Linked DNA regions of Homo sapiens: region 2 is linked to region 1. Evidence: fine-mapped expression QTL. Tissue or cell type: lung. Region 1 holds a variant in brackets; the other region holds the start of a gene. Each region is shown on its reference strand, or each on the opposite one.

The links.
Region 2: RBP2 starts here. The variant in region 1 is fine-mapped to the expression of RBP2 in lung (TOPMed, PIP above 0.99).

What each region holds. Positions count from the first base shown.
Region 1 is chr9:106,732,830-106,735,748 of GRCh38, forward strand. No RefSeq gene overlaps it. Among named protein-coding and RNA genes, the nearest start is that of LINC01505, 120 kb to the left of the region's middle. The variant T/C (reference allele first, on the strand shown) is at 1,520.
Region 2 is chr3:139,475,076-139,477,994 of GRCh38, forward strand. RBP2 (retinol binding protein 2) reads right to left here and starts at 1,441. Exons shown (of 4, transcript NM_004164.3): 1 at 1,312-1,441. The coding sequence starts at 1,384. All of the region lies in intron 3 of COPB2-DT (COPB2 divergent transcript), which reads left to right.

The DNA.
Region 1 (2,919 bases):
AGACATACAAATAATTTAATCTTTACTGCAGTCTTTCATAAACATACCCAAAGCGAGAACATAGAAAAACTTCCTAAAACCTCTCTTCTCCCATTTCTTTCCTTCCTTTCCCCCGATATGCCTAGGCTCACCTAAAGTCTCTCTTCTCCCCAACTCTAAGCTCCCACTCCAAGATATTCTTCAAGCCCACCTTCAGGTTCTTTTGTCTCCCTTCCTAAGCTCTTCATATCTGTATCATTTCAGCCTCCCTGACTTCTTAGAACTTTCCGGTAAGAGCCCTGGAGCTAACTCAATAAACAAAAAAAATTCTTCCAGGCTAGGACATAGGGTAAGGGAAAAAAAATTGAAAAAATAAATTATTTTAGTTTGTCTTATTCCTGTCACATTTACAGTGTACACTCTGCATGGAATACTGTTGGCCCATTTCTAACATCAATACCCCACTCAATAGTTAAAGCCCAGAACAAAAGATCGTCCTCGAAACATTCCATGATGCCCTCTTAGAGAACTTTGCACATTCTATCTTTTCTTATAGCTTTTGGTGTAAATGTCTTATTTCTACTTTTGAAAACTGAGACTCAAGGTCATCTGTAAAACCCTTATTTCCCTTCAATACTCACCTAAATATCACTTCTAGGGCAAAGAGTTTCCTCTATACTCACCCAAAAATTTTTTCCAGGGCAATGGCTTCCCTCACTTTCTTTCTAGCCTTGGCTTGGTTATTTCTTTGATGCCACAGCAACTGGCACTAACCTGATATATCATAATGAAATTCTGTGGATTATTTACGTGTCTGTTTTGCCTTCTCTCACCCCGAACATGTATACTTTGAAAACAGGAAAATCTCTTATTCATCCCCAAACTTATCCAAGTACTCAGCCAAAACATGTTCTCAGAAAATGTGTGTGTACAATGTCATGTTTATGAAGTTATGTATTCTCCACAATATCTGTTTCTATACTGTACTCATTGTAGATTCTCGAAAAGTGTATTTGGAATTGAATTGAACATATATGAAACATTCAGCTTGATTGATTTTCTTCTTTGACATAACTTTATCTGTTTGGTGGTCTAAAAAGGTTTTCAAAGTGAAAAACTGGTGGAGAGAAAACAAAGGATTAAAAATAAACTAGTTTGACCAGTTTCTTTCCCTGTGGATATAAAGCCAAACTTGGAGCTTTGTCTAAGGAAATCACACTGCCAGGCAAAAGATAATAGGCTGAGAGTGGGTCCTTCTTTTGCAGCCTGCAAGGCTGCAAGACCTTTCATTTCTGTATTAGAATATTCTGTTATACTAGGCTCATGTGGCTCCTTTGGTTAATGGTGACAGAAAATGTCACTCCAGGGCCACATAACTGCAAATACTACTGGCCTAGAAGCTGAAACAGATTGATACTATTGGCAAACCACACCTAGGCGGCTTTTTATAAGAGGCGGGAGAAAATAGAGTGATTAAACATAATCACTCTTATGCATCGTGCAACTAATCTCCAACATCCCTGGACTGCTCTCCAGGCTC[T/C]ATAACTTACACCCAATCCATGGAGGTAGGCCCATTAACTATGTTTCCAGTACATAAAGGAGTCTACAAACAAAAATTCATTAATTCTTTCAAAATTCAGTCCTTCTCCTGTGGAGCAGGAGCTTGGAGGAAAAAGGATATTTTTTTGGCAAAGGTTTTGAGTCAGAAGTTCAAGGTAGAGGCAGCCTGGGGAAGAAAAATACTGTTGGTGCCTATGCTCCCTGCTAGCTCCAGCCCCAGGAGTGGGTTATGAACCCATTCCCCTTGAACAGACATTGGTTTGCATGGTGGTATGGTTGTAATTCCAGCCAATGAGGTGTGAGCTGGAGAACTGTGGGAAAGCATATCTTTTCAAAAAAAAAAATCAACAAAAGACACATAAGAAAAGCTGGTCTCTTCTTTTTCTCTGGACATTGTCTTGTCTGGCTGTGTTATGTACAACTGCAGCAGCCATTTTGCAACCAAGAGAGAATCGTAGGCTGAGAATAAAGACAACAGTGGCAGATGTGAAAGAAAAAAAGACCCTCATTCTTGATACTACCATCTCTCTACTGAATAACCAACACTGGAGACCCCTTACTTCTGAATTTCTTGTAATATGAAATAATACATTTCCTTATTGTATTAGCCACTTAGAATTAGGGGGTTTTTTTGTTTTTGTTTTTTTTTGTTTTGTTTTGAGACGGAGTCTCACTCCTGTTGCCCAGTGGTGCAATCTTGGCTCACTGTAACCTCTGCCTCCCAGGTTCAAGTGATTCTTCTGCTTCGGTCTCCCAAGTAGCTAGGACAACAGGCATGTGCCACCACACTTTCATTACTTGAAGCCAAAATAATCTTAATACATTTGGATTACTGAATTAGTTAAAACTTTTGAGGATTATTTTTTTTTTAAGCATAGTTCTTGCACCTACTCCATCACAACAAACAGGTGAGAACCAGTACCTGTCTCAGCCACTTCCTCTTCATATCCCAGACCCCATGCTCGGCTGTGGACCATGTTACTGGTCTTCATCCTCAGCTGAGTGACCCATTGATTTACTAGATTAGGTCTAGACTGAACTATTGATTCTATTAATATATAGTCCCTTAATTACATGCCCAAATCACATACCACCCCTTCCCTCCTCCTTTAGACTTCTAGAACACCCACTTGATAAGCCAGCCTCCTGACACCTGTTGCAAGAAAGGGAATTTAGAACACATGCGGGCAGAGGCAAACTATATGATCTACTCCATGTTCTTGCACTGCATTTATTATGTTTCTGTCCATAGCCAGCACTTGGTTAAGCTCAGTGAATTAAAGGACAAGTTACCTAACCTCTGAGGGAAACTCAAGCTCTGAAAAGCCATTCCTCAAGCAACTACCTGGATATTCCTGTTTTTGAATGCATGAGTTTATT
Region 2 (2,919 bases), not on the chromosome of region 1:
CTTTGGGAGGCCGAGGCGGGTGGATCACAAGGTCAGGAGATTGAGACCATCCTGGCTAACATAGTGAAATCCGTCTCTATTAAAAATACAAAAAATTAGCCAGGCGTGGTGGCGGGTGCCTGTAGTCCCAGCTACTCTGGAGGCTGAGGCAGGAGAATGGCATGAACCCGGGAGGTGGGCTTGCAGTGAGCTGAGATCGCGCCACTGCACTCCAGCCTGGGCGACAGAGCGAGACTCTGTCCCCAAAATAAAAAAAAAAAAAAAAAAAAAAAAGAACATGAAGAAAGTGCTTAGTTCCACAAATATGGAACATATCACAGCTCTCCTTTTTCATTGACATGGTGGACATTTTCAAGCTAGAAGTTTATCACACCAAAAAACTCATGATTTCCACTCTTGGAGAGACCTCCCACCATCATATCCAAGTTATTATTGGGCCTCTAACTCCACCCACTGCCGTTTCTCTCATTCTGCATGTGGAGGAAGTTCCAGCGAAGTTACCCCATATGTGGAGAACTTTAAAGCTAGAAGAGGTGATAAAGAGGCTGCTGAGGGATGGAATAAGGTCAGGCAGCCAAAGCCCCTTGCTCAGCACCTGGAGCACAGGAGCCACCCAGTAACTGTGAGCTCCCCTCTGGGGACCCACTCACTCTAGTCCCAGGCAGAACCTGTAGGCTGGGCAGGGCTATGTGTTTTCTGCCAGTTCCACAGGGAACCCACTCTGTGGTGAACTCAGGACATGCACCAATTGGTAGCCCTTGGCCTGGAACCCAGTTCAGAAGTCATATAAGCAGTGGGTTGTTTGTGCTATCTGACAACAGCCTCTCTAGGCTTCCATGAGCTTGATTTTCCCTAGGCTGAGAGATTTGCTAGCTATTTCTTTTCTGCTTCCCCATTACAAAACTGATAAAAGAACAATGCAGAGGTCATTGGTGGATAATATCAGGTCCAAGTGGTTATCAGAGAGATGGTGGTCACAAGGCAGAAGAGCGACTGTGTTATCCTCTCAAGTTTGGCTTTACTCTGTTGTGTGTGTATCCTCCTGACATACACATTCAGTGTATGTTTTCTGTGGGCCAGGCACTGTGCTAAGGCATCCTAGACATAATCTCATTTATCATTATTCCCAGTTTCCAGATGAGAAAACTGAGCCTCAGAGAATTCTTATGATCTGCCTAATATTGCACAGCTGTACATGAGGCATGAGGATTTGCCACAGGTCTGTTGAACTCCATAGCAGCACTGTCTGGAGGGCCAGACCACAGTACTCCCAACAACAGCTACCCTCCCCATCCCCAGTCTCCTCCTTACCCAGGGCCTTCATGTAGCCCTCAAAGTTTTCATTACTCTCCATCTCCCAGGTTCCATTCTGGTCCCTTGTCATGGTGGTGGCCACTGGTTCGGTGAGGGTTTGTGGTGGATGGCAAGGAGCAGGCTGCAGGGAGAATACACTGGAATGAGCTTCTTTTATAGCCTAGTGGGCCAGGTTTGTGACTCTGAAGATAAGAGGTTCAAAGGGCAGAAGCACAACTCAAAAGAACTTTTCTTTGTAAAGTTCAGCGAGACTATAGGTAACCCACGAACAAAGTCCTGGTATGGCCAGGCGTGGGTGTCCTAGTGTCCTGCACCATAAGCAGGGCCCTAGAGCAGCTCATTTTTGGCTGGCTGGGTCCCCATGGGCCCCTTGTCCCACACAGAACATTTCATCCAGTAATGGAAGAAAACAAACATCCAGGGTCTACCCCACATGTACTATGGGTCACTAGTACCCAGGCCTCAAGCCTGGAGTCTATCAGCCATGAATCCAGCACTCATAGCAAGGCTGGTGAAACTGAAAAGACAGAATTCACACCTGTGGAGCTCTACTCTACTCTGTTCCAGGCAGCATGCATACTTCATCTTGTTTCAGCTTACAAGAGCTCTGTGAGTTATGTTTAACCATCCTTATTTTACAGATGAGAAAGGATCATGGAGGTTAAATCACATGTCTAATCACAACTTGTAAGTGGTTGAGCCAGGATTCAAACTCAGATCTGTTGGGCTCCAAATCCTTTTCTTCAACAGTGTGCTAGGTCAGCTTTGAAAGAGGTTTGGAGCCTGACTTAAGAGACCAAATCTCTCTTGCTTCCCTGTGGAAGCAAGGTGCCCTGTGGACTTCCTAGCAGCAGGGTGAGACATGAGAAAAGTGTTTTCTGGGAACATGATTCTGCTAAAAGCAAGCTGAGCCTGGAGGGAGTCCAGATGGAGGCAGAGGGGTAGTGGAATGTTGTTTTAAGATCCAAGGGGAAAGCTGAGGATCACCTGGATCAAAGTGGGGGCATAGCTGGACAAGGACCCTTGGTTCAGGAATGTTCTCCAAATGGGCTGTCCCAATGGAAATGGGTTTAGTTTATTGCTCTGACACTCTATTCCAAGATGTGGTGTCTGAGAAGTGACTGTGAAGAATGGAGGTGTGGCCTGAGACAGATATACCATGAGTTCCCAAAGTGAGACCTATTTTGATGATGACACTGCAGCTCTCATATATGTATCCTTGTGCTGTGAAATCTAAGTAAATGACTCTGTGTGTGGTACGAGGGATATAAAACAGCACATTTATCTTTCAGTAAATACACTGGAGTTAGGAAGACAGAGTGAAAAATGGCCCAGCTGTTGTCAAAAGGCCAATGGGGAAAGGTAAGGGGTGAGAAAGAAATAACTTTACCACAAATGGAAAATGAGTGGAGGAAGGAGTAGACAGATAAGAAACCTTGGAGATTCATCCTGTGAAGTCCAGCCAGAAGCTGCTGTAGACTGAGCATTCAGCCTCCTGGGCTGGAGAAGTAGATAGTCCCTCCCAGGTCAAATTCCAGGGCCTCCACCGTCCCTCCTGCCTGCAACTGAGGCCTCCTACCCCGTAGGCCTCTCCTGTAAGAATGT